Regions from separate parts of the Homo sapiens genome. Here all the other regions are reported to be linked to region 7. Evidence: microRNA targets listed by miRTarBase, many of them from high-throughput screens and not tested one by one. Region 7 holds a microRNA gene; each other region holds the end of a gene's coding sequence.

Region 1 (4,081 bases), not on the chromosome of region 7:
GAGAACTCTGAAAGCCAAAAGAGTCACATGCTATACAATTTTGATTAATAAAATGTATGGTGGTAAATTAACATAAAATGTATCAATTAGATACAAAGTAACTGCTAGGCTCTATTATCTAAGTTTTACAAAGAGTTTAAAATATCTTTTGTGAAATGTAACTATTTCCCCATAGTTTTCCTGAATTATTTTTATTATGAGATGATCTGTCAAAACATTTTAAAGAATGAAGAACTTGTGGCTATGTACTAAAGCACACTTGTCTAGCATGTAGCAGGGCAGGCTGCCACACATGCCCAATAATCCAACTTTTAACATGCAAGATACAAGGGCATACACAGAGAGATTTAAGGTCAGTGTGCAATTTAACTATGGATTTTTACCTATGGCTATAATATCTACCTGCCTTTCATAACACAAGAAAGGCACTGAAACGTGTACAATTTAAAAAGTCTTTTCATTACTATAAATATACATGAGATATAAAGCAGTACAACACAGGTGCTCTTGCTTGATTGAGGAACAAATGCACCTTCTCTTTAAACAATAGACTGTCCTTTACTAGATTTAACTAAGAGCTAAATGCCAAATTCTGGCTGATAGAGTGCATAGATAGGCTTACACCAAAAATCCCACAGCCAGCAGCATGGGTTGGGTTTTGCAGGGAGTCATTTACCCCTGTTTTGATCTTCAGGGATCATTAGAGGGTCATTTGCAGCATTTTCAAGCATTGGTTTATGTAAGAGGGAAATTCTGCCACATGACTCCAAGGGTTCTGAGTCTGGCCCTTGGTATGGCAAAAGACATTTGCAATTCTGTGCAAGGAGATCATGGGGTTTATCTTACTCCATTCACATATACATGGGCTGCATACCAACTGGCCCTTATTCAACTGAAAGAATAGAAAAGAACAATAAGTTCTTTATACTGTGCATTGATTCTTACCTGGTATATTGTGTAGCTACCTGAAGTAATTGTAGGGTTATAATTACATCATGGTGGGAATATGAATGGGTTTCCTAGGTAAGTCTTAAGTTTTGTGCTATCTTTTCTTTTTCATAAGGGAGAAAAGAGGAAGAACACTGAATAAAAGAGAGGCTTATTGTATTTTCGGAAAACATATAAAACATTTCCAGTTATATATATATATATAGCATATATAACTAAAAACCTCCCCATCTCTCTTGTTGGATGGGTATTTGAAAATAACAAACTCTTGATATCTGCAGCAATCAAGTGGAAAACATCATTTTTATGTAAACTACACTGCAGAGCCATGTAATTAATCTCAGTAACAGGATCAGCACACACCCAAAGAAAAAACAAGCTCTATGAGTAGTAGTAGAGTGGAAAAGAACTCTCAAACACCTGACTTTGTAAAACAAAACAAAAAACATGTAGCTTCAGCAGTTTAGGAACATTCACCAATTCTATCAAAAATGATGTAGTTCTTTATCAAAATGATGGGAGAGGAATTCTTCATAGGGTTCTTGATATATGCCTGCAAGTTCCATTTATGATAACAAAAGTTAAATCCTCTATGTCCCTTATTCAACATGCTTGATTGATTGACATGTAGAGAACTAGAGTGGGCCCTTTGTTCTGATCATAAAAAAAAAAGCAAGATGTGGCCAGGCACAGTGGCTCATGCCTATAATCCCAGCACTTTGGGAGGCCGAGGCGGGCAGATCACGAGGTCAGGAGATCAAGACCATCCTGGCTAACACGGTGAAACCCCGTCTCTACTAAAAATACAAAAATTTAGCCGGGCATGGTGGCAGGTGCCTGTAGTCCCAGCTACTCGGGAGGCTGAGGCAGGAGAATGGCGTGAACCCAGGAGGCAGAGCTTGCAGTGAGCCAAGATCGTGCCACTGCACTCCAGCCTGGGCAACAGAGCGAGACTCCATCTCAAAAAAAAAAAAAAAGCAAGATGTGCTAACATCTAACACCTTTATGTTCAACAACTTGAAGTTATCTCTGAAGAAATTATTTTCTCACTTTTTTTGCTTTTCAGAGACTAGAGAGCAACTTTACTCACTACATAAATTTATTTGCATTGTTACATCTTGTGTTCAGAGTCTTGATAAAACTATAGCCACGGCTTACAACATTATTAAACAAGCTTCTTACAGAAACCAAAAATATTTACTTTTAAAGAAGACATGATAATATAGTGCAAACAACAGTCATGTGTCAGAGTGTAACAACTGATTCAAAACCTTTAGAACTAAGTTTCAACAGGACAGAATTTTGCTCAATAGAATTTACATATTTTCTTTCCTTTAAAATGGTTTTCATAGCCTGTATAATCAATTTGACATGGTATTTATAACTTATTTTCCTTGTAATGAAAAGTATCAACAATAATTAGTTGTTTATCCATTTGTGTGATAAATGTCATATATATTATTTAGTGAAACTTAAGTTCTTCAGATTTAAAGCAATTTTGTGGTGAAATTAACCCTGTTAGATAGTAGAAAAGAACCATCAGTGCTTCTGTTGACACTTCTGTACCTTACTACCAATAAAAAGGCCACGAGGTAAAAAGGCACATAGAATTCTATAAAAAACATATTTAAATGAATCAGAGTTGCTAAATAAAGAACAAGGATGTGAAAAAAAGTACCAAAATTCCAATATTGGGAGTTAGATTTCCTGTTTCAGTGTTATTAATATTGACCTTAATAGATTCCTGGTAAAAATCATTATTTTTAAAATCCTACAAAAAGTAAAACTTTGTTGGAAACGACTATGTTCACTTCCTGTTCAAACAATAAAAATAAATTAAACAGTAAGAAAACATATTTTTCAGTTCATAGCGCCTGAAGAGAAACATATACATTAAAAATAAAATTCACTGTAATTACTCAAATCCTGCTTATAGAACTGATATATTTACATTTATACTGAAGTTTCAGAGTTTTTAGTGGAGTTCCGCACTTTCTCAGCCACACTGAGCTATTAGAAATCACATTTGGAAATGTGTTGAGACAAATGTGTTTGAGACCCAAGACTTTCTCAAAAAATGCTGAAAAAGAGGTGTGTGTGCATATATATATGCATGCTACTTAACTTTAAAAATATGTACCATTTATGTTTCTTAACCTTTTCAATGCCCATGGAGTAAAAGTAAACAAAAACAATTGTATTATTTCTAATGGTCTGCAGCTATCTTTAATTTTCTATGTTAGGTGTATACATTTTTTAATTTAAAAAACTATCAAGTTCCATTTTGACCTTAGAATTATAGAGTCAACTAAATGATTCACTTTGACTTGATACATTTCACCTTGTCCTTTGTCTCCATCTATTTAAAAGAGAAATTTATAAGTGAACAAAAAGGCTGCAATAATGCAGTTCTACTCCTGTATACTTAACTGTGATCTTCATGCAGATCAATCTAAAGTCTCTTGTATGCATATACTTGCAAAACTAGAGTGTTTTCCTTTAAATGGGAAAATGTTTTGTGTCCTTGGGGCTTCATGAAAAGATTTGCCGCTGATGCCAAAAAGAGGTGAGGAGGAAATAAAGTTCATAAGTCTTGCATATCTTCATCCAGCTGGACAGTCTGGAGCTTGGCAAGCTCTTTTTTGTCTGTTTCCAGGTCTTCACAGACAGTATCAACCATGCCATCTAAGACATACTTGGATTTAGAGTCCAGCATCATTAAGCTACTTGTTGCTTTGCTCTCAGAATTTGATAAGAAATTCTCTTTCATGTTAGCTACCGATTGCAGAACCAAACGATGTTCTTGGACAAAATCCTGATGTACTGCTGGGGAGGGGTGACCTACCTGATCTTCAGCTGTAGGAACTATTTCCCCAAGGGCAGCCTGAGTCATAGGGACTGACAATAGGTCTTGACCAGTAATAAGGGAGCAGTTCTGAAGAGTTGCATAGTTAGTGTTGCTGACAGATGTCACAGTAGATTTGCTTGCCACCGGTGCAGACATTGGTTGGCTATCGGCAATGTCGCGGTTTAGCTCAGTGGGATTTAGTAGTGTAGAGGGACTGAGAGAAAAATTGTGAGTTGGAGATACATTAACTAATGAGGAGGCCAGTGGATGCAGGCCACTCCCCGA
Region 2 (4,081 bases), not on the chromosome of region 7:
GAAGCATTCCCTTTGAAAACTGGCACAAGGCAGGGATGCCCTCTCTCACCACTCCTATTCAACATAGTGTTAGAAGTTCTGGCCAGGGCAATCAGGCAGGAGACGGAAATAAAGGGTATTCAGTTAGGAAAAGAGGAAGTCAAATTGTCCCTGTTTGCAGATGACATGATTGTATATCTGGAAAACCCCATCGTCTCAGCCCAAAATCTCCTTAAGCTGATAGGCAACTTCAGCAAAGTCTCAGGATACCAAATCAATGAGCAAAAATCACAAGCATTCTTATACACCAATAACAGACAGAGAGCCAAATCATGAGTGAACTCCCATTCACAATTGCTTCAAAGAGAATAAAATACCTAGGAATACGACTTACAAGGGATGTGAAGGACCTCTTGAAGGAGAACTACAAATCACTGCTCAATGAAATAAAAGATGACACAAAGATATGGAAGAACATTCCATGCTCATGGGTAGGAAGAATCAATATCGTGAAAATGGCCATACTGCCCAAGGTAATTTATAGATTTAATGCCATCCCCATCAAGCTACCAATGACTTTCTTCACAGAATTGGAAAAAACTACTTTAAACTTCATACGGAACCAAAAAAGAGTCTGCATCACCAAGTCAATCCTCAGCCAAAAGAACAAAGCTGGAGGCATAATGTTACCTGACTTCAAACTATACTACAAGGCTACAGTAACCAAAACAGCATGGTAGTGGTACCAAAACAGAGATATAGATCGATGGAACAGAACAGAGCCCTCAGAAATAATGCTGCATATCTACAACCATCTGATCTTTGACAAACCTGACAAAAACAAGCAATGGGGAAATGATTCCCTATTTAATAAATGGTGCTGGGAATACTGGCTAGCCATAAATAGAAAGCTGAAACTGGATCCTTTCCTTACACCTGATACAAAAATTAATTCAAGATGGATTAAAGACTTACATGTTAGACCTAAAACCATAAAAACCCTAGAAGAAAACTTAGGCAATACCATTCAGGACATAGTCATGGTCAAGGACTTCATGTTTAAAATACCAAAAGCAATGGCAACAAAAGTCAAAATTTACAAATGGGATCTAATTAAACTAAAGAACTTCTGCACAGCAAAAGAAACTACCATCAGAGTGAGCAGGCAACCTACAAAATGGGGGAAAATCTTTGCAACCTACTCATCTGACAAAGGGCTAATATCCAAAATCTACAATGAACTCAAACAAATTTACAAGAAAAAAACAAACCCATCAAAAAGTGGGCAAAGGATATGAACAGACAATTCTCAAAGGAAGACGTTTATGCAGCCAAAAAACACGTGAAAAAATGCTCATCATCAGTGGCCATCAGAGAAATGCAAATCAAAACCACAATGAGATACCATCTCACACCAGTTAGAATGGCGATCATTAAAAAGTCAGGAAACAACAGGTGCTGGAGAGGATGTGGAGAAATAGGAACACTTTTACACTGTTGGTGGGACTGTAAACTAGTTCAACCATCGTGGAAGTCAATGTGGCGATTCCTCAGGGATCTTGAACTAGAAATACTATTTGACCCAGCCAGCCCATTACTAGGTATATACCCAAAGGATTATAAATCATGCTGCTATAAAGACACATGCACACGTATGTTTATTGCAGCACTGTTCACAATAGCAAAGACTTGGAACCAACCCAAATGTCCAACAACGATAGACTGGATTAAGAAAATGTGGCACATATACACCATGGAATACTATGCAGCCATAAAAATGATGAGTTCATGTCCTTTGTAGGGACATGGATGAAACTGGAAACCATCATTCTCAGCAAACTATTGCAAGGACAAAAAACCAAACACCCCATATTCTCACTCATAGGTGGGAATTGAACAATGAGAACACATGGACACAGGGTGGGGAACATCACACACCGGGGCTTGTTGTGGGGTGGGGGGAGGGGTGAGGGATAGCATTAGGCGATATACCTAATGCTAAATGACAAGTTAATGGGTGCAGCACACCAGCATGGCACATGCATACATATGTAACAAACCTGCACATTGTGCACATGTACCCTAAAACTTAAAGTATAATAATAATAAAATTTAAAAAAAAGGAAATGTATATCCTATTTTGGGCAAAATGATTTAGGGCATGGAGAAGCCAATTTCAAGATGGCAGAACATGGAATGTTGGCATAATCACATGTGACCTCTAGGACATACTGGTAGAACATGAAAACACGCTTTCAGGATTTCTAGAAATTATTAGGTGAGGAGAGCCCAGTAGAAAAGTAGAAAAGGGATAGGAACTTCAACTATCGCTATCTCTATAGTAAAGGGAATTTTTGCACCAACAAAACTACACAGGTCTCAGAAACCTTGGTTACTCATAATTTCCATCAGCACATAATGAAGATCCAAGGAAGTTGTGGTCTTTGGCTGATAAATGGGTTGAGATTGTGGCTCAAATCTTCTAGGGAAAGGGGGAAGGGGAGATGTCATGAGGGTAGACAAAGTCTAGCTCCAAAATCATCTTGAACTCTTACCATAAAGTGAAATTCATCCCTGTATTATTAGAAGTAGCAGTAGTATTTTCCAAGACAAAACAGGTTCCAATTCTGCACAAATATGAGATAATTGAAAAGTTTTATTATAAACAACATAAGCAAAAAATTCAATGCAGTGGGGGCAGAAGTGTGTGGATGACCTGCCAAACAATAAGTATTCAAAGTGTTGAGTGAGGGAGGTGAGGTTGCAACTATCTTTCTCTAGAAAAGAAGAGAACTGGGTATTCATCAAATTGGTTAAATTGAGGTTCGTCAAAGAGTTTCTACAGATACAGCTGAATATACTAAACATTGCTCTATTATCTGTTGAATTGCTGTATTTCACTTTTTCAGCATTTGGGGATCATTATTTAATTGAATTTGTAGAGATCGATTTTCCAGACAGGTCTCTGTTCTTCAATGAACAAATGATAAGAAACAATTTGACTCCTTATATGACAATGGAATTAAATAAATTGACACTCATCTAGGAATAATTCTACAATCATCTCCATCTCTAAGATTACCTACTGCAAACAAAGAATTGATCTTTCTTTCTCAAAAACCACATGGGTAAGATGATCATTGTGACTCTGAATGCAAGAATAAGTGAGTGGAAGCTACAAGGGGAGATTATCTGCCAACATAGAAAGAATCTAGAAGAAAAGATTTTATTACAGGTAACATGACATAGCTTGGAGCCATCTTTTTGGTCTCTTGCATACATTTTCTCTGCATGTCTAAGGAAGAATTCACAAGGTAGCAAGCACCAATACTTTCTGCTTTGGAGTTTCACAAATTGAAAATTTGTCCCTCTCTTGTTAAGTCAATCAAACATCTACCAATGGCCAATGGTGGTCCTTAGTTACGAGTGCCTGAGAGACAGAAACTAGAGCACTCGACTATGCTAAATAAGTAAGTATGGGGCAAGGTTGCCAGAGAATATGCAGAAAATACAAACAGATTTTCATTAAGTTTAATCTTCCGCGAACAGACGTAACAAAATAAAGGAAGCAATCTGTAACGCTGTCATGATTAATTCAAGTATCCCATCCTTACTCTCCACTTCCGTTCTTGCCCTTTGCTGCCTTACAGCATAGTGAGCCTCCTGTTCTGCTAGTTTCTTCTCCATTTGCTTCTTTCTCTTTTCCTGCTCCACTTTATCTTCCAGCTTTCTGATTTTCTCTTCATACTCCTCTCTTATCCGCGCTTTCTCTCTCTCCAGCTCCACTCTGTGGAGTTCTTGCATTGCTTGTGTTTGCTTCTGGATCTCCTCCTCCGCCCTTTGGTACATCCTATTAGTGTAGCAGCCTTCCTTGTTCTCCCTCACCACGCGCTGGATCAGGCCCAGCAACTGTGCCCTCTGGGCCTCCTGCTCAGCGCCTGTTGCCTTGTTGTTTAACGCACAGTAGCGGTCACCGAAAATGTCCATCAAGTCTTGAATGTCTTCTGGAGCTTCCCTTAAGTAGTCATGCAAATTGGTGTCACCTAAGTCATCTTTCCGGGTGAATATGAGAATCATGAAACTTCTAGCCCTCTCTCCAAAC
Region 3 (4,081 bases), not on the chromosome of region 7:
ACTTAAAGCACAACGAAACTTAAGTTTAACTTGTCTTCCCAGTTACTACTGTAATCACCTTTTATTGCCAGTTCTTGTTCTATTGGAAGACCAGTAAGAAGCCAAAAAAAAAAAAAGTTTCAAATATCAATTGTTAAAAACAACAAAGAAGAGTTTAAGGAAAGAATATATTTGAACCACATAAACAAACAAAAAGGTATTACATAAGAAAAAATAATGTAACAATTTATGTAAGTACCTAACATATGAGCATGCTCTTACATCTAAAACAAAAAATAAAAAGGTAACATTGGTACTATATATATATATTTGACAAGTGTGCATTAAAGAATTCTCTAATATAAAACATTTAAAATGTGGAGAATACTTTTTCAAGATACAGAAAACAATTGTTATGATAGGCACACCCACAATTCTTATAACAACATGCTTGCGAGGATAAAATCCACCTGAGCACTCATTTCTCAGATGTACCAACGCTAGAAAAGTGTTAAGCACTGAATATTGCCACCCACTTTTGCAATGTTTGAGTTTCAACACTGATTGGTATGAATTCTGAATTACACAATTAATTACTGTTATTTTTCAGTCTTTCTGCCATGTTCCATATAGAAGGCATGTATTTAATATGAATACTTAACACAGCAACATTATTTGTAGCAAAGTCACTTCCCTGTGTTCATTTTTCCTTTAAAGGCACTACATTTAGAAAAGTTATTACAACAAATAGTGCTTTGGAAGATCTGAAACTCCAAATCAATGTGCTCCATCAACCATAAGTAGATCTAAGAAGCCCTGACTGAAAATAACACAAATGTAAAAAGTTGATAAATTTAAAGATTATAAAATTGGTTTATTGTAAAAGCAATTCAAGAATACCCAGTTAAAATCTTATCCCAATGCTACCCAATACAACCAAGAAGCAGTTAAGCACTTTTACATTAGGAACAAGGACATAAAACAAGAGACCACATCAAGGCTATGATTCAAACTCAAAAAGGGAAAGGACTCTTAGGTCTCCTTCAGGTCAGTACAGAGGGCATCGTAAGATCAAAGCACTGTGCCAGGTATCACAGTACTGCTACAACACTGAGGTATAACTGGGCAAATTAAAGTTGAGGGGTAAAGGAAGATCTCCATATTCATATTGTTTTGTGGGTGTACTTAGGTGACTGAAACTCTAGAACAGCTGCCTTTAATGGCAGCACGGTGTAAGACAAGTCTTTATTAAAGAGAAAGAAGTTTATAAAGTTCTCTATCAAGGTCCCCCTAAATCTTCACAACCCCCCCCCCAAACTTTCCCACCCTCCCCCTAAGCTAAAGCTAATCTGCTGATATATAAGATATAATCTTAATCTGTGGCTACTGGCAAATTATAGGCACTCCTTCCAAGTAGCTTTGATCTTCTGCACATTAAAAAAAATCCCAACAACATGCTATGTAATTCATATACCCAATTTTGCATTCTAGGTAGAATTTCATTACTACTCTAAAACTCCATCTGCAGTGGCCATTTCCCCCCAGACTTAATTCAAGATTTAATCTTTCTGCTGTTTTCTTAATAAAAGCCTTAGAGTCAATTATTATGAGTGATCAACCTATGAACTATTATATACAACACAGTGATTGCATTTTTTTGAGCACTGAAAGTACTTAAAATAAAACTTCTTACTTCCAACTTTTGCCCTCCTCCAAATTGAAGGGCCAAAATACTTAGATTTTGTAATTGGGGGGAAAAAAATCTATCTTCCCAAGCTGAGGCTTTTCATAGCAGCTTTTGCCAGGAGAAGAGATTTTATGCCTGTTATGAACCCTTGAAAATAAGGGCTTATTCTAGAAACATTGAAAGACCCTTAAAACACAGAGGTGCTAGCTGGTGCCACTTTAATTCACAACCAACTATTACTTCATAGCTTATATTGAAGAGTTAATTCATGCTCGTTTTGTTCCTTTAAAAAATACTCTTTGGAAACCATTATTACTCCTGTAGACACATACTCTAGTTACATCATCTCTTCCTGTAAAAATAAAGGTATAATCATGATTATCTCTATTTCTTTGCTAAATTCAACTACCAATATACATTTATTAATCTGATCACTTTTCCAGCTAACTCAAAACCTTATAGTATTCTATCCAGGGTCAATTTTCAGCATAGAAGTAGGAGCAAGTCTTGTAAGTAAGAACAATCTTGAAGGCAATATTTTAATCTAGTCGTTAATGTGTTCATTACAAATGAGAACTACAAACTAGAATTTACTTCCAAAACTAAGGCAAAGAAAACTTCCAAAGCTAAATGAAGGTAAACCACTATAAAGCTTATTTCTGTCATGCACATTATGAACCTACTCACTGAATTCCAATCGAGACTTAAAAATTAGTCCAAGGGAGAAAATAAAGCCATTTCTGGTTTGCTCCTTTCCAATTCATCAGATAATATCTACCGTATGCCCAGAGGGCGTGGAGCACTCCCCTAGGCACTATCCACAGTAATAGCTCTTTCTAGAACACTAAACTACTTCAAACATCTGCAGACTGCCCCAACCAGATTTAAACTACCAGTGAAATATAAACTACTAGTCATGTATTCTAAATGCATACAAAGCGCTACCATTTTAAAAATTAACTGGAAAGCAGGGAAACCTAAAAAAGGATACATTCCACTACCACACTATTATAAATGTTATGTTTGGGTGTGTGTATGTATATAAAAGAGAGAGCAGATAATCGAGATTTAAATAAGGTGGTAAAAAAAACCAGGAAATGAAGATTTTACCAAAACAACTACAATAACCATCCCAAGCTACAACTATTAACAGATTCACTAATATGGTCATTTGCCTAGGTTCCGACAAAACCAACCAACCAACCAACCCCCCCACCGACCCTGCCAAAAACAAAAAAAACAAAAAACCCAACAAAACAGAACAAAATGCACACCCACAAAATTATCCACCAAAATCTATATTAGAGTATGTGGCAATAATTAATATATTTATATGGAAATTGTCTCATGCCTTATAAGCTCCTAAAATAAAATCAAGGTCATTATGTGACTAATGATAGCACTAGGAGGAAAAGAAAATACTGAAAGTAAAACAGTCTTCAGCCTTGGTTTCAGCTATCTCTTCAAATCAGCATTAAGTATTTAATATCAGATATAACATTTTTGGCTTGTCAGACCAGTAAATCATGTTTTTCCACTGGACAAAGGAAGCTGAAGAAACAACTGTTGAACAAACTAAATGCTGTGACATGAAGCATCTGACTTCTAAGTCTGAGTATTTAGTTAAAATGATTGGTGAACATTTAACTGGGCAAAAGGAATGGCATCCATCATCCAAACAGGCTCACTTCCCCCAGCCCCCAAAATGAACAGTAGTTTTAATAGCAAAAGAAATAAAAAGTTTTTTTCTTTTGATTCTTTAGAGCCAACTGTGAAAGAGGTCAGCAATACATTAACAGCAGCAATGGACAAGGAAGAGCAAAATAGAGGATTAAAGTATCTTGCTGGACGTTTGTTCATCTTTTTCTGTATTAGCCTGAAAACTGCAACTGGCTTATGGAAATTTCCGGTGCATGTGTCTCCTTAGATCCTTCACAGATTTAGAATTCAGTCTGCCTGAGGGCTCTATAACCATGTAAGAAAGCTTTCTTTATCTAGCTTGGTGGCAGCCAAAACAGACTCCATGTCATTAAGGATGTCAGAACTCAAAGCTTCCTGCAGACTTGGCATCAGCTCCTCTCCTTCTATGTTCATTCCATCTCCTTCCAGTGTTCCAAGGTCCACATTTGTCCCAGGAATGGCTTCAAGGTAGTCTGGGAAACGGTTCTGCTGTGAGGGCAGGGTGCTTTGGTTGATAGTATCACCTAGTGGAAACACACAGAGATAACAAAGTCCTTTTTGAAAAGCTAACATCAGGGCTGTATCATATGAGCACAGAGAAATGCACAGGGAAAGAAAAGCGCTCCTGACTGACCTAAACTGATACCTAGAATTTATATCAGGTCAAACAACTCACAGATAACAAAATAACAATGCCAAGTTTACTTTTGCTTCAACATTGTTCAGATATCCAAT
Region 4 (4,081 bases), not on the chromosome of region 7:
CTTGAAGAATTTTCAGTACTTTCAACTGCATTACAGTCAAGATCAACTAATATTAAGAAAGCACAAAAATTGATCAAACGTACCATAAGAGCTTTGGAAAATTTAAAAATTGGTACTGGAAAGTATGAATCTCAAATTGAAGATTTGATCAAGTCAGATAAGTTTAAAGATATTCCATTTAATAAAAACAATAAATTTAATGCTCTTCCTAGGAGTATATTACTAGACAATATAATTCAGCACATGAACCTACGCCTTTTATCTGACAGAAACCATGAAGATATTTTTAATTACTTTGATTTGCTGGAACCTTCCACATGGCCTTATGAAGAAATAACTTCACCATGGATAGCTGGTGAAAAAACATTATTTCATTTGTGTAAAATTTTAAAATATGAAGTTGATTTGAATGATTTTCGGGAATTTGTAAATAATAATATAAAATCAAACAATGTTTCAATTCCTACAACTATATACAAAGCTAAAAAGATAGTTAGCACCATTGCAATCAATAGTGCTGAAGCTGAAAGGGGTTTCAATTTAATGAACATAATTTGTACAAGGGTGAGAAATAGTTTAACAATAGATCATGTATCAGATTTAATGACAATAAATTTACTGGGGAAAGAATTAGCAGATTGGGATGCAACACCGTTTGTAAAATCTTGGTCAAATTGCAACCACAGGTTGGCTACAGATACAAGAGTTCGGCAAAAGTCAACAAAAGTCTTCCATGAGAATCAATTGGCTATATGGAACTTAAAATAGAATATTGTATACGTTTTTTGTCATCTGTAAATTATGTACTACACATCCTTTATATACATAAAGGTCTTTTTTTTTTTTGGAAAGCCAGTTAAACTTTTATCAGCATGTTGCTGTTTAAAAGGCGTTCTTTAAGAAGATAATCTTGAAGATTGGTTTTAGAAGCTATAGTTTTTTAGAGATTGGCCCATGTTTGCTAGAGTGGGTCATAATACATATTCCATGAAGTTCTGTACAGAACAAACACCGTTTATAATTTTGTACTGTTTTACTTTAAGTAAGGATGCAAAAAATAGCAGGACTCAGCTAAGTTCTAAGCCCTGGAGGTTATATTAAATAAAAGAGAAATGGAATAAAAACTGTAAGCCTTTTGGCTCTTGTCTTTCTCATTTCCATATCTGTGCTATCTAGTATGGTAGCCACTAGCTACATGTGGCTGATCAGCTTAGGGCTAAAAGTAAAATTTTTATTTATTTACTTTTACTTAAATATGAAAACTGAAACAATGTGAAATATTTTTCTGCTTAGCTTTACTGTTTTTCAGTAATACATTTTACTCTGTTACCTTGCATAAGATATGGTTGTTGTAGTGTGCCTGTCAAACTTGTGTGTCATTTCCAATATTGAATATAAACATATTGCTGATAGATATGATACTGCTGTCAGCAGATGGATTCAATGCAAGTTATTTTTTCTACAAATTGATGTAACATCATGTTTATCTGAATATTTTATGCAGACAACAGGAATTACAGTGATTCCTGTGTAAATTATAACTGGTAATTGAAATACTTATTTTAATCATGATTAAATTATTTTTCTAGTTTACACATGAATATGAGCAAATTTTTAAATTTAAAATGAAGGCATACTGAAAAAGAATCAAGTGGCGATGCAGAACCTAGTACAACTGGAACAGTAAACAGACTCAAAGAAGGTATGTTGCAGATTTGACAATGAATGGCAATTGCAGTTTGCTGTGGCAGAGCAAAACAAGCTGCTATTTAAGAAACAAAGTAGGAAAATTGAGACTTCAGCAGATGCAAAATGAATTGGGTAAATTATATTTCATATGCCAAAAAGAATCAATGAAATTTAGTCACCTAAAATCAGAATTAACAAGAGTTTTTAAAAACAATTTTAGAAGGAACTAAGGTTGTAAGTTTGGCCAGATGTGAAATAGCTGAGATTCTTTTTTTTTTTCCCGAGACAGAGTCTTGTGGTGTCACCCAGGCTGGAGTGCAATGGCGCAATCTTGGCTCACTGCAACCTCCACTTCCTGGGTTCAAGTGATTCTCCTGCCTCAGCCTCCCGAGTAGCTAGGATTACAGGAGTGTGCCACGACGCCTGCCTAATTTTTTTTTTTTGAGACAGAGTCTTGTGTCACCCAGGCTGGAGTACAGTGGTGCAATCTCGGCTCACTGCAACTTCCACCTTCTGGGTTCAAGCAGTTCTCCTGCCTCAGCCTCCCAAGTAGCTGGGATTACAGGTGTCTGCCACCATGCCCAGCTAATTTTTTTGTATTTTTTATAGAGACGGGGTTCCACCTTGTTGGCCAGGCTGGTCTCAAACTCCTGACCTCAGGTGATGCGCCTGCCTCAGCCTCCCAAAGTACTAGGATTACAGGAGTGAGCCACCATGCTCAGCAAAATAGCTGAGATTCTTGCATGAAAGAATTAGGGTTTTTTTTTTTTTTGGATGGGAGAGGGGAGGGTCCTGCTATGTCACCCAAGCTGGACTGCAGTGGCTCACTGCAGCCTCTTCCTCCTGGGCCCAAGCAGTCCTCCCACCTCAGCCCCCTAAGTAGCTGGGAATACAGGTACATGCCACCACACCCAGCTAGTTTTTATATCTTTTTGTAGAGATGGGGTTTTGCCATGTTGCCCAGGTTGGTATTGGACTCCTGGGCTCAAACAGCCTTCCTGCCTTGGCCTCCCAAAGTGCTGGGATTATAGGCATGAACCACCATGCCTGGCTGAGAACTAGTTTTAAATGGATAAATGTGAAATTATTTCAGTTGAAGAAATTGTTAGAAAATTATGAATAAAAGCCTAAATAAGATGTTTTATTAAAAATTACAAGGCCTTGCTGGGTGCTGTGGCTCATGCCTGTAATCCCAGCACTTTGGGAGGCCGAGGCAGGTGGATCATGAGGTTAGGAGATCGAAACCATCCTAGCTAATATGGTGAAACCCCATCTCTACTAAAAATACAAAAAATTAGCTGGGCCTGGTGGCATGCACCTGTAGTCCCAGCTACTCGGGAGGCTAGGGCAGGAGAATCGCTTGAACACAGGAGGCGGAGGTTGCAGTGAGCAGAGATCACACCACTGAACTCCAGCCTGGGCGACAGAGCGAGACTTTGTCTCAGAAAAAAAAAAAAAGTACAAGGCCTTTAGTTAAGCACCAAACAATTGCTATTAGAATATAGGACCTAGCAATATTAAAGATTAATTGATTCTAAATCTGAAAAATCATAAGTACATTTCTGTAGTTTTAGAACAGTTTCATAATTTGAGAAACTACCCAAGTAACACACTACATTGAGTCTCATAGGACTTAAAAATTATGAAGAAATAATTTCAATTGATGGCCCCAAAAGTCAAATTTATGGCCAGGTGCAGTGGTTCACACGTGTAATCCCAGCACTTTATGGGAGGCCGAGGCAGGTGGATCACCTGAGGTCAGGAGTTCGAGACCAGCCTGACCAACAAGGTGAAACCCCACCTCTACTAAAAATACAAAATTATCCAGGCATGGTGGCAGGTGCCTGTAGTCCCAGCTACTCAGGAGGCTGAGACAGGAGAATTGCTTGAACCTGGGAGGCAGAGGTTTCTGAGCTAAAATCGCACCACTGCACTCCTGCCTGAGCGACGGAGCAAGACTCCAAGTCAAAAAAAAACAAAAAACAAATTTATGCAGCTGTTTTTTTAATAATTAAATGTTAATTATTATTATTTTTTGAGACAGGGTCTTGCTTTGTCGCCCAGGCAGTGGCATGATCATGGCTTACTGCAACCTCTGTTTCTAGGCTCAAGCAATCCTCCCACCTCAGCTTCCCAAGTAGTAGGGATTACAGGCACATGCCACCACAATCGGCTAGTTTTTGTATTTTTGGTAGAGACAGGGTTTCCCCATGATGCCCAGGCTGGCCTCGAACTCCCTGGTTCAAGTGATCCACCCGCCTTAGCCTCCCAGAATGCCGATATTACAGGTGTGAGCCACCGCGCCCATCTCATGCAGCTTTTAAAATCTCTGCGTGTGTTATAACAGTTTCAGCTAGATGAGAAAAAAAAAACATTTTCTGTCACAATAAAT
Region 5 (4,081 bases), not on the chromosome of region 7:
GGTGGCTGCTTATTTAAAAGTAAGCAAGGCCAGGTGCAGTGGCTCTTGCTGTAATCCCAGCACTTTGGGAGGCTGAGGCAGGAGGATATCTTGAGACCAGGGGTTTGAGACCAGCCTGGGCAACAGGGTGAGACCCCACCATCTCTACAAAAAATTAGCCAGGTGTGGAGGTGTGCACCTGTAGTCCCAGCTACTCTGGAGACTGAGACAGGAGAATTTTTTTTTTTTTTTTTGGAGACAGAGTCTCGCTCTGTTGCCCAGACTGGAGTGCAATGGCACGATCTCGGCTCACTGCAACTTCCGCCTCCCAGGTTCAAGTGATTCTCCTGCCTCAGCCTCCTGAGTAGCTGGAATTACAAGTGTGACAAGCACATGCCATCACGCCCAGCTAGTTTTTGTATTTTTAATACAGATGGGGTTTTACCATGTTGGTCAGGCTGGTCTCAAACTCCTGACCTCATGATCCGCCCGTCTCGGCCTCCCAAAGTGCTGGGATTACAGGCGTGAGCCACCGCACTGGGCCTGAGACAGGAGAATCTCTTGAGCCCAGGAGCCAGAGGTTGCAGTGAGCCGAGGTCAGGCACTCCAACCTAGGCAACAGACCAAGACTATGCTCAAAAAAAAAAAACAAACAAAACAAAAAGCTGAATTTGTTACTCGATGCTCTGCTGTCTGATTTGTTTGATCCTGCATCATACTTTTGTGATTAATTGCAGTTACCAGGCACTACTGTTAGGAAATGAAACATTGTTCTTATTAATAGCCACAAGTGGATCTACATCACTGACTTTTTTTTTTTTTTTTTTGGAAAGGGAGTCTCGGAGTCTCACTCTGTCGCCCAGGCTGGAATGCAGTGGCGTGATCTTGGCTCACTGCAGCCTCCACCTCCTGGGTTCAAGCAATTCTCCTGCCTCAGCCTCCTGAGTAGGCGGGACTACAGGTGCGTGCCACCACGTCCAGCTAATTTTTTGTATTTTAGTAGAGACGGGGTTTCATCATGTTGCCCAGGCTGGTCTCAAACTCCTCAGATGAGGCAGTCCACCCGCCTTGGCATCCCAAAGTGTTAGGATTACAGGCATGAGCCACCACACCTGGCCTGACCTCTTGAATGCATTGTTTTCTGTTTCTGAGATGGACTGTGAGCACCCCTGGCACCTCGGAGCTTCCTAACTCTGTTTTCCTGGGTCACAACTGGAAACTTTTTAAGACCTTTACCTAACAGGCTACTAATATAATCATTCTGTTTCCTTCCCTACCCAGACCTTCTCTGAACTGGCTGAGTCTTTTGACACCTGGCTTGTTCTCTTGCTAGTAAATTGAAAACCTTTGGCGTATGCTTAAGTTCAATTTGTCTCATATATTTTGTTTTATAGTAAAGGTGTGGGGCCTCCTCTGACCAGTCTGAGAGGAGCAACTTGTAGTGGTAGAAGGACTATAACTATTCAACCATATCTTTGTTAGCCTGGAGAGCTAACAACAAACAAACAAATTTTCCTGATGAGTAAAATATTGATGTTCCACATTTGTATAAGATATTCTTTGAAATGGGAAAATTCCAAATATCAACTACATGGGCACCAAAGCCATGCACTATCAAGATGGTTTTTAAACCTTTTTTTTTTTTTTTGAGATGGAGTCTCACTCTGCTGCCCAGGCTGGAGTGTAATGGCGCAATCTCAGCTCACTGCAAGCTCCACCTCCCGGGTTCATGCCATTCTCCTGCCTCAGCCTCCCGAGTAGCTGGGACTACAGGTGCCCACCACTATGCCCCGCTAATTTTTTGTATTTTTAGTAGAGACGGGGTTTCACCGTGTTAGCCAGGATGGTCTCAATCTCCTGACCTTATGATCCGCCTGCCTCGGCCTCCCAAAGTGCTGGGATCACAGGCGTGAGCCACCGTGCCCGGCCTTTAGGCCTTTAACGATATAAAATCCATTGTCTATCAGAGGGGAACCTTTTCCAGGAAACTGACTCTTGTACATACTTACTTCATTTTGCAGCAATTTCAGATTTAGTATTCGTAGCCCCAGCTCTTTAAGTAAGTATCCCTGGATTAGCCACATGGGTTGTGTCATACACTACCTAGCTGCCTTCATGGCAGCAGGCTTCTGAATACTAGAACCCTTCAACTCAAAGTGTCCTCTGTAATATTTTAACCCTTTTCTTCTATTCATTCATTTGTTGTCATTCATTCTAGAAATAATTCCGTGTCTACTAGTTGACAGGTACAGGATATTGCAGTGAATCCAGCTGATGTAGTCAGCCCTCATGGCACTTCCAGTCTAGTGGACACTTCAACTGCCCTTTCTCATGTCACCTGCTTGTCCTGCGTGAAACCCACGTGCAGCTTCCCAGACCCCTTTTGACATGTCAGTGCCGAGTTCCTGGTTCATCCCCCATCATTTTCCTCTCCCCCAGCCACCAGAGCCTCCCCTCACATACCCTTTTTTTTTCCCAAAGAAGGAGAAGCAGACGAGTTGAAGAGAACTCCATTTTATTATGGAAAGTTAAAAAACAAACAAAACAAAACAGGCAATTGATAAAGGCGGCACAATGGGGAAGGAGAGGTGAGGTGTCTCCTTAGCCACCCGACACCATCTCAATTCAGTTCAATTGTGAACCACTAGGAGAAACAGAATTAAATAACTATCAAGGGGTACAGAGTTAAGAGTTCCAGCCTTCCCTCTTGGGGAAAACTAAGGCAAAGTAATACTGAGAAAAAGTGGAGGAAGCCACACCTTCAGGTCACTCCAATGAGGAGACTGGAGGGGACAGAGGAGAGAATTCCACGCAGACACAGCAAGTAAGCGTGGCTTGTAAACCTGGGACTTTGGCAGGTGGGGCTGGGAGCTGATGGAATTTGTAAACCAGGCTGTGGTCAAGGGAGGAGGCAGGAGCTGTAAACAAAGGGGCAGTGACCTAGGAAATGAAGGAGATGTGCCTATAAATGGAGTGGGGTCTGGGCCTCCCAGAGAGACGAGTGCTTAAATCCCGAGAGTCCCCACGGGATGGTGGGGAGGAAGGCTGTGGGGAGAGTGTACCCTGCCATGGGGGGCAGGTGCTCCATCTCCACCCTCCAGGGAGTTCTGTGCCCCTTCTCAGGACTTGGCGCTCACTCTTGGATGACCTAGGATGCACCAGCACGTTTAACCCCACCCACACCAGGGACTTTGGATTAGGGTAGAAATTGGGCAATTGGCTCTGCCCCCAGAAACAGGGTGGGGAAAGCAAGTTACAAGATGTTGGTTGCCCTTCCCTGCCAGGCTCATTATCAGGGTCTGTCTGCCCTGAATCTTCCGGGCTCCAGGATCTTCAGTTATAAGAAGGAGGGAGGTATATCCCTATGTTGGAAGATGGTCACCGCCGGCAGGACTCATCTGTGGGAGAGGGGGCAATAATGTTAGAGAATGAGTGAGAGCCTCTGCCTTCTGCCCACCCTTCCCCCCCACACAAATTGAAGGGCAGTTGGCATGCAGGAAGTCCTATAATATCTTCCATATCTAAAGCATGTTACCACCAGTAACCACATCCATCACTCATTTAGCTCGGACTCTGTGCCAGGCATCCTTATAACTGTTTAATCTCACCATAACTCCAGGAGAGATTAAGTAATATGATATCCAGCTGTGGCTCTTGGTGCTTCACAAAAAATTACTTAATCTTGGCCTGGAGCACCTGTAATCCAAGCAATTTGGGAGGCTGAGGCAGGAGGATCACTTGAGGTCAGGAGTTCAAGACCAGCCTGACCAACATGGGGAAACCCTGTCTCTACTAAAAATATAAAAACTAGCCAGGTGTGATGGTACACATCTGTAATCCCAGCTACTAGAGAGGCTGAGGCACAAGAATCGCTTGAATTTGGGAGGCAGAGGTTGCAGTGAGCCAAGGTTGTGCCACTGCATTCCAGTCCAGGCGACAGAGGGAGACGCTGTCTCAAAATAAATAAATAAATAAATAAATAAAATTACTTAATATTTTCTACAAGTCTAGGAGGTAGTTTTTGGTTTCTGTTTTTTTGAGACAGAATTTCACTCTGTCACCCAGGCTGGAGTGTAGTGGCGTCATCTCGGCTCACTGCAAC
Region 6 (4,000 bases), not on the chromosome of region 7:
TGGAAGGCTCTGATTGGCAGAGCGTTGGTGGCAGTCACATGGAAACTAGCTGTCTTGGGCAGAGGGGCTTTTTGCAGTTTTCAAGGGCACTCTGTTTTTCTCCATGCTGACCCGCTTTAGCAGCCCAGTTTCCAGAGTCTCTTCAACGCATTGATTAGTCCAGGCGCCTCAGGCACACCCAACGCTGATTTGTCCCCCCAGGTCGCCATGGGCTACTCACACTCCTTGGTGATAGCAAGAGATGAAAGTGAGACTGAGAAAGAGAAGATCAAGAAACTGCCAGAATACAACCCCCGAACCCTCTGATGCTCCCGGAGACTCCTCCGACTCCACACCTCTCGCGGCAGCTGTCATTTCCATGTGCACTGGGACGGGAAGTCAAACGAGGAATTTAAAAAAGCAAAAGTTGACCGAAGGTGCATTTTTGTTTAGACTCCCTGAGGTTCCGTTTTACACATGATCCAACGTTAACTACCTTTTTTTCTGTATGCTTTCCAAAGTCCTTTTTTTTCCCTTAATGTTGAATTAAAATACTTGCTCATAGTTGATTTACCATTCCTACAAAAGAGGCAGAAACTTTGAGCAATCTAGGTTTTTTTTTTTTTTAAGTTTTTTCTTTCTTCCTCTCCTGAATACACTCCCCAAAACACCCCTTTCCAGTTACAATTAGCATCGTGATCCAAGCAGATGCCACATGGAAGAGGAATCGCCATTTACTCAGAAAAAATGTCCCTTACAGGAACCGGCAGCAGCTAGGCAGTCACCGGCCCGCCTCCATCCAAAATCACGCTCGCGTGCTTCGGAAGCATCCGGGTCACTCCTTCTCCGCTTTTTCTTGCAGATGGGCCTAGGCCGGTGTCGGTTCTGTTTCTCCCCTTGGCTGCCTGTACGCCCACAGCCTTCTGGCTGCGACATTATAGAATCGGCCGTGTCCCCCCTGGTGGGGGATTGGGGATCTGTGTTTAGCCATTTATATCTACTTTAGCTGTTAAAGAGGTCCAAATGAAAATCAGGTGATTGTGGAACCATGGGGACTTGGGGGTGGGGCAGAGGTGGGAACATTTGTATCAGTTGAGTCAGCTTGGTGGCTCCCTGTGGAGCCAGGGCTGAGCCTTGTCACGCGCACTCGCCAATTAAGAGATGGACCAGCCAGCAGTCAAGTGCATTCTCCAGTCCTTGCAAGAAGGATCAGCCCTTTCTGTGCCAGCCTCGATCGCCTTGTGCTTTGGTCTCTTTTTCTCCCCCCCGCCTGGATCCTGCCTCGCGCGGGCCGTCCTGTTGCTGAGACTCGGGGTACCGTTCTGCTGACCCAGCTCCCTTTAGTCACGTTTGCTTGGCTCTGGTACCAAATAGTTGGGATTACCGAAGAGTCCCCTTCCTTGCGTGTCAGCACGGATGCTGTGACTGCCACCTGCGTCCTCGTCAAGTGCCCGAGCTCGCCGCCGTGTGTGCTGCGCTGAGTGAGTTATGAGGTGCCTTTCCCGGAACCCTCCTCTCGCCTGGACCCAAGAGAGGCGACAGCTGTGGCTGGGGCTCTTGGTTTCCAGAGGGTCTGGACTGGTTTGGGTGCTTTAAAATAGATATTTAGTTCAGTGGTGCTTATGGGGGAGATGGGACTAGAACTTAAGTGTGAGACTTGGGTGGATGGGAAAGTTAAATATTGGTCTCTTCAAGTTTTTTTTTTCTTTTGCTTTGTTACCACTTGTCACTGTCTCCATGTTAAAATGCCAAAAATGATGTAGTTGTTGTTGCTTTTTTCCCTATTTTCCACCCCAGTCGCTCCTTACCGTGACTCCTGCCCTTGGAGGGCATGTAGCAGTGTCTGTCCTGCCAGTCCCAAGGCCCTGTGGGAGGAGACTGGCCTGCATCTCTCTAAGACTTAGTCTGACGCCACGCGCATCTCTTGTTCTGTGTTCAATCAGTAGTCCAGGGGAGAAGCTTCTGCTACTTCAGAGCTTTGCTAAACTAACCTAATTTGTCCAAATCACCCCAAAACCACCATCTCTGACGTAAGCTTCCATGCGACAGCCTGATCCGTTTCCCTGGACAGGTCTCTTTCCTGGAATGCAGCCCAGGCACCTGTGCTCCTGGCACCCTTGAGGTCTCTCCTTTGAGCCGTGGTCACCGAGAGGGTTGAGGACGCAGCACCCGAGGTCCCAGCCTTTGCAGGAGCCTCCCTGGGCTTAGCTGGACTTAGATCTTCGGTGGCCTCATGTAAACGTGGCAGCCAGCCTCTTCTAGAACCCTAGCCCAGGGACTGGAGCAGGAAAGGGACCTTCAAAGTGAAGACTGCCTTGTCCCGCAGCTCCTTCTGGCTTAGATTGAAAAATGGGCTTCCTAATGGGTTAAATCCTTTAAAACAAGGAGTTGTGGGGGAAGGGTGTCGTGCACTCCTAGAGAAAGGTACACAGTTGCCCGGTTGGGAATGTGCTTGGCGCTGACCCTGCGGGCATCTGACTGGTCTTCCAGCTCAGGAAAAAGAATTTGAAAGAGGCTTAGCGTGAAGGGGAATCAAAGAGGAGGTTGTGATTTGGTCGAAGGTGCCTGGTTTAGTGCTGTAATTGTCTTATTATTTTTTTTATATATATATTTCTTGGAGTAAACATTTTAAATAAACAACAACATTGTCTACTGTCTTGGATTTTGCATTTCTTTTTCGGTTGGAACGGAGCTCTGTTTTTCTTAACTCCTTATATGTGTACCTCCTAAGCCCTGGCACCCACAGAAGGTGGTGCCAGGAGACATGTGGCCCCAGGGGAGCTTCCAGGTTTAAACTGCACTGGTTGAAGTGAGTGGATCCCCCAACTCTGCCCCATGAAATGCTAGGGGAGTGGGACAGAGTCAGTACCTCAGTTGTCCAATTCAGAAGTGGAGTTCTTTGCATTTTCACTGGGGCTTTGAGAGGAAAAAAATAAGTCATGGGAGGCATCCAGCGCGGTGACTGCATGTGCACCCACTCCCCAGACTTCAGCAGGGGGCTCTGGTCAGGCCCCGGCTGTGGCTTCAGGCCAGTGCTGCTCTGTGCAGGCATTGTGGCCAACTGCCCACCAGAGGGCACCAGGAGGCTGGTCGTAGGTTCAGAGATCACGGACACTCTCCCTTCTAGGCTGCTGCTGAGTCTATACCGGGCAGAGTCCTAGACCAGACCCTTGCACAGGACACCGGCTCCCTGCAGCCGCAAAGATGCCTGGGATCCCTGGAACCTCGAGTGCAGGCCACCTTGTGTTGACTGGCTGAATAGTGTCCAGACCAGCCCCTCCTGGCAGGCATTGGCCCAGTTTGGGAGAGGAGGAAACGGTCTCCCATGGCCTGTTAGCTGCAGAAGGAGCATGTGCACTGTTGCAGGACAGTCCAAATGTAAAACACGGTGTTTCCCCATCTCCCCCCTTGGCAGCTTGGAGCTTCCCATCAGATGCTCCTGCCCTGGAAGAGCCCCCGTGGGCAGGGAAGCCACTGCTGGGGGCAGCGTCCCTGCTGACACACTGGCTGTTGTGTATTGGGCACATGCTGCAAATTGAGTGTCGTGTGTCTCGCCCCTGACTCCTGCAGTCCACTCCGACAGTCTTTTTGGAGACTGAGTTTCTTTCACCCAGGCTGGAGTGCAGTGGCATAATCGCAGCTCACTGCAACCTCTGCCTCCTGGGTTCAAGCGATTCTCCTGCCTCAGCCTCCTGAGTAGCTGGGATTACAGGTGTCCACCACATGCCTGGCTAATTTTTGTATTTTTAGTAGAGATGGGGTTTCACCATGTTGTCCAGGCTGGTCCCGAACTCCTGACCTCGTGATCCTCCCACCTTGGCCGCCTCCCAAAGTGCTGGGATTACAGGCATGAGCCACCGCGCTCGGTCTTGTATTTTTGAGATGGAGCTTTGCTCTGTCGCCCAGGCTGGAGTGCAGTGGTGTGATCTCTGCTTACTGCAACCTCTGCCTCCTGGGTTCAAGCAATTCTGCCTCGGCCTCCTGAGTAGCTGGGATTACAGGCAAGTGCCACCACGCCCTG
Region 7 (4,081 bases):
GTTGGAGAGGCTGTGGAAAAAAATGACATGCTTACACACTGTTCGTGGTGATGTAAATTAATTCAACCACTGTGGAAAACAGTTTGGAGATTTCTCAAAAATCTTAAAGCAGAACTACTATTTTACATGACAATTTCATTACTGGGTATAAACCCAAAGGAAAATAAATCGTTCTGCCTAAAAGGCATGTTATGACATGTATATGTTCATTGCAGCACTACTCACAATAGCAAAGACATTGAATCAACCTAGGCACCCATGAAAGGTTGACTGGAAAAAGAAAATATGACACATGTACACATGGAATACTACCTAGCCATAAACAAGAATGAAATCATGTCCTTCACACCAATATAGATGCAGTTGCAGGCTAGAATCCTAGGCAATTAACACAGGAACAGAAAACCAAATACTGCATTTCTCACTTATACATGGGAACCAAACACTCAGTACACATGGACATAAAGATGGAAGCAATGGACAATGGGGACTAGTGGAATAAGGAAAGAAAAATGGGGTGAGGCCTGAAAGGACTGCCTATTGGGTGTGCTCACTGGGTGTCAGTGTCATTTGTACATCAAACCTAAGCATCACACAGTGTCCTAATGTGACAGGCCTTCACATATACCCCCTGAATCTAAAATAAAAGTTGAAATTATTTTTTTAAAAAAGAAAATGTGGTATGTATACACACAAGGGACTACTATTCAGCCATGAAAAGGATGAAATGTCATTTGACACAACTTGGATGAACCTGCAGGATATTATGTTAAGTGAAATAAGCTAGGCACAGAAAGACAAACACCTCATTATCTCACCCGTATTTGGAATAAAAAATCTTCATCTCATTGAAGTTGAGAGTAGAACAGTGGTTTCTAGAGCTGAGGAGAGTGGGGTAAGGGGAGATTAGAGGAGGTTGGTCAATAGGTACAATGTTACAGTGAGATAGAAGGAATAATTTCTGGTACTCTTGCATAGTATGGTGACAATAACAATAATGCATAGTGTATTTCAAATAAGTAGAAGAGAGAATTCTGAATATTCTTACAATAAAAAGATAAATATCTATGGTGATGTGTGTGCTAATTATCATGATTTAATGATTATGTGTATATACATATTGAAACATTACATGTATACCATATAAATATGTATAATTATTATGTGACAATAAAATATATTTTCAGATAGTATCATTTCATATATTCAGGGTTAAAATATATTACTAAAATTAATTTTATTTGTTTTCTCTTACTTTTTTAAGTAACTTTTTAAAATTACATGTGTGGCTCTATTTTGGGACTCACATTGTATTTCTGTTGGATGGTAGTTCTCTACAAAACAAAAACAAATAAAAATTGTCATGAACTTCATTACCCCTTGACAGGATAGCAATGTCAGGTAGAAAGCATGGGATGAGGATAGTGCCGTCAGGTAGAAAGCATAGGATGAGGATAGCGCCGTCAGATAGAAAGCATGGGATGAGGATAGCACCGTCAGGTAGAAAGCATGGGATGAGGATAGCGCCCTCAGATAGAAAGCATGGGATGAGGATAGCACCGTCAGGTAGAAAGCATTGCTTCCAAGATGTCTTAGTGATGCAGAGAGCTAATGAGCACAGGGTCCTGGCAAAGCAACCCTGGCTTATCTAACCGTTTCCATTCTTCATATGGGGGTTAAATACTCAGGACAGGAAACAACAGAATTTTACACATTTTATCTTAATTTCTAATGCTGTGTGAGTGTAGAATTCCTTGTATAAGTATGAGAAAACAGAATGTAATTATCAGATATATGAAAACATACAGCAATTCATAAGAAGACACCATGGGAAGAACCAAATCAAATGTCCAAATGTCTTTTTATTAAATAAAATCTCTTCATTCACAAACAAGAAGATCCAATAGAACATTGTATCTATATAGCTAGAAAATGCAGACAAAGAGAAAAAAATGGACCAGGACAGAATGTGTGAAGACAAAAATATTTAAAACTAATATATCAAATATAGTGAAAGCAGAGGTGAATTTTCCAAAGAAATAATAAAGCTTAAGCTTTGGGGGCACCTCCCTAGCCAAGGCTTCTTCTGAGACTCTGGAAGATGTCTTGCAAGTTTGTATTAATGTCTTAATATTTGTTTAAAAAAAAAAGAGAGTCCTCAGTTGTGTAAACATGAGGCTCTGCAATGCCTGTATCAGACCCTGGCACAGTGAAAGGCTAATTGTAATCTGCAATCATATATCTACCTCTACCCACAGATAGTCACTGAACACCTGATTTATATCAGGTAATCTGAGGAAGAGGTGGTGAGCCAATACACTGCTGACCTAGCCCCAATGGAACATGCTTTCTATTAGGTTGGTGCAAAACTAATTGCGGGTTTTGCATTACAAATAAATACAAGTAATAGCAAAATCCACAATTACTTTTGCACCAACATAATGGATGGAAAAAACAGATTATAGACATGTTATTGTAAATAAATAAATAAATAAATAGAGATCTACAGCAAACAAAACTAGTATAAAGAATTCACCCACCCAATATATCGGCTCATTCCATTTCTAATTGCCCAGTATTTAGAATATCCAATTGGGCTTCCAAGATATAATACACAAATAAGTTAATTGATTCAATTTCTCACAGTAGACTATGTGTTAATTTGAGAAATGAACACCATGAGTGATTCTCATAGTTTATGTATGTAAATACAAGTAAACATGAGTGCACAAATACACACAAGTATACACATATATGCACACATAAAGCTTCAATTTTATTATGGGGTTTTGGATATTTCATTTATCTTCTTTGAACTTAACCATGTTTTCAATAATTTGGGTACTAAATTGGTATTATACTTTAATCAAAAGAAATATTATTAAAACCCTAAATTTTCTTCATAAAAAGTATTTTTCCTCTCAAAATGTCCTACTAGAGGAGTAGTGTGAATTTGTAAACATTGCTTGGAGTTGTATAGGTATGCAGGCAGAATTTCATAGACCATATCACAGTTACAAGCTTGCCATGATTCCACAGCCATCTTCACATGCACTATCAATTTGCCTGGCCAGTTGGAAATAATAGATATGGAAGAGAAAGAAGGGTGGTGCTCCTCCTTTTCTGCTTCTCTAATTGACTGTGAAAAATGGATTCCTGCAACAATGTTGATCAAATTTACTCTATTTGATATTATTTACCTGAAGAAGGGGACTTCTTTCAAAAACAAAGGGGAAAATCTAATGCAAAGGTAAATATATCAGCACATATATTAAATATTTTTATTTTATTTACCAAATGGAATAAAAGGAAAAAAGAGGTAGGCTAATGGCACACCGAAGAATAATTGAAAACATGTTTAATCATTTGTTTGTCCACAAAGCAAAGGACAAATGCAAATTTGATTACAAAGAGTGGTGGAAAAGGTAAACAACAGTTTGGAAATTATTTCTAGTTATTCTTCAGAATCAATGAATAAAGAAAAGAAGTATGAAAGTAATAATGAATTAAAATGTGTGTTTCCTTGTTAAAGTGAAATGATTTTGGGGTGCTGAAAGTGAACCCCATATTTCTCCCCACTTTCAGATAATTGCCTGATTTATGGCTACTGATACAATCATTGCCATATCCAGGTTTTAGAGTCAAATAGTTTATGACTCGGTACTGTGTGCTGCCAGGCTAATCTTTCCTGTTGGCAAATCTCCACATGGTTTGACTGAGGGTCACCAGGTAGCTTTCCATGCTCAAAATTTGCCTGCTTTGTAGGTGTCAAATAACCAGACATTCTATTAGGGGGAATTCTTTCCTATGGAATAAAGTATTAAATGCTAATATGAGGAAGTAGAAAAATATAAAAGCACCATCCACATTTAATACATGATTAAAACATACTGAATACTTTCCAAGTGGTTGATAACCAAGAGCAAGAACTCACTTGGAATCGGGGTTACAGCAGATAAGTTTTGATAGGCAACATGTGGAGAGACCAAGAAGTGCCTCAATGTGATGGCAAAGTTGAGATGGAAGAAACATGTCAGGGATAGGATGGGGACCTAACTGTATAAATGAGGATAATGAAAAG

The links. The annotated mature microRNA hsa-miR-548ab reads AAAAGUAAUUGUGGAUUUUGCU and lies in region 7 at 2,409-2,430, opposite strand. An mRNA with a match to its seed (bases 2 to 7 or 8) in the 3' UTR can be bound and repressed. Matches are read on the target gene's strand: a 7mer-m8 pairs with bases 2 to 8, a 7mer-A1 pairs with bases 2 to 7 and ends in A, and an 8mer does both.
Region 1: miRTarBase lists SIX4 as a target of hsa-miR-548ab. Seed matches in the 3' UTR shown: 7mer-m8 at 3,127-3,133, 7mer-m8 at 2,726-2,732 and 7mer-m8 at 95-101.
Region 2: the mRNA of GIMAP4 is a reported target of hsa-miR-548ab. The part of its 3' UTR that is shown has no 7-base or 8-base seed match.
Region 3: miRTarBase lists YAP1 as a target of hsa-miR-548ab. Seed matches in the 3' UTR shown: 7mer-A1 at 3,499-3,505 and 7mer-m8 at 3,091-3,097.
Region 4: the mRNA of KIAA1586 is a reported target of hsa-miR-548ab. Seed matches in the 3' UTR shown: 8mer at 1,034-1,041.
Region 5: the mRNA of PPP1R18 is a reported target of hsa-miR-548ab. Seed matches in the 3' UTR shown: 7mer-m8 at 2,704-2,710.
Region 6: the mRNA of RCC2 is a reported target of hsa-miR-548ab. Seed matches in the 3' UTR shown: 7mer-A1 at 978-984.

What each region holds. Positions count from the first base shown.
Region 1 is chr14:60,709,875-60,713,955 of GRCh38, forward strand. SIX4 (SIX homeobox 4) reads right to left here. Exons shown (of 3, transcript NM_017420.5): 3 at 1-4,081. The coding sequence ends at 3,533. Among named protein-coding and RNA genes, the nearest start is that of SIX4, 12 kb to the right of the region's middle.
Region 2 is chr7:150,572,490-150,576,570 of GRCh38, reverse strand. GIMAP4 (GTPase, IMAP family member 4) reads right to left here. Exons shown (of 3, transcript NM_018326.3): 3 at 2,618-4,081. The coding sequence ends at 3,511. Among named protein-coding and RNA genes, the nearest start is that of GIMAP4, 7.1 kb to the right of the region's middle.
Region 3 is chr11:102,229,491-102,233,571 of GRCh38, reverse strand. YAP1 (Yes1 associated transcriptional regulator) reads right to left here. Exons shown (of 9, transcript NM_001130145.3): 9 at 148-3,870. The coding sequence ends at 3,632. Among named protein-coding and RNA genes, the nearest start is that of BIRC3, 86 kb to the left of the region's middle.
Region 4 is chr6:57,054,096-57,058,176 of GRCh38, forward strand. KIAA1586 reads left to right here. Exons shown (of 4, transcript NM_020931.4): 4 at 1-1,130. The coding sequence ends at 768. Among named protein-coding and RNA genes, the nearest start is that of KIAA1586, 9.4 kb to the left of the region's middle.
Region 5 is chr6:30,673,912-30,677,992 of GRCh38, forward strand. PPP1R18 (protein phosphatase 1 regulatory subunit 18) reads right to left here. Exons shown (of 3, transcript NM_133471.4): 3 at 2,478-3,377. The coding sequence ends at 3,358. Among named protein-coding and RNA genes, the nearest start is that of DHX16, 2.9 kb to the left of the region's middle. RefSeq lists a silencer at 1,048-1,187.
Region 6 is chr1:17,405,396-17,409,395 of GRCh38, reverse strand. RCC2 (regulator of chromosome condensation 2) reads left to right here. Exons shown (of 13, transcript NM_018715.4): 13 at 202-2,636. The coding sequence ends at 306. It also overlaps RCC2-AS1. Among named protein-coding and RNA genes, the nearest start is that of RCC2, 32 kb to the left of the region's middle.
Region 7 is chr3:103,521,677-103,525,757 of GRCh38, forward strand. MIR548AB (microRNA 548ab) reads right to left here and starts at 2,440; the gene lies at 2,357-2,440.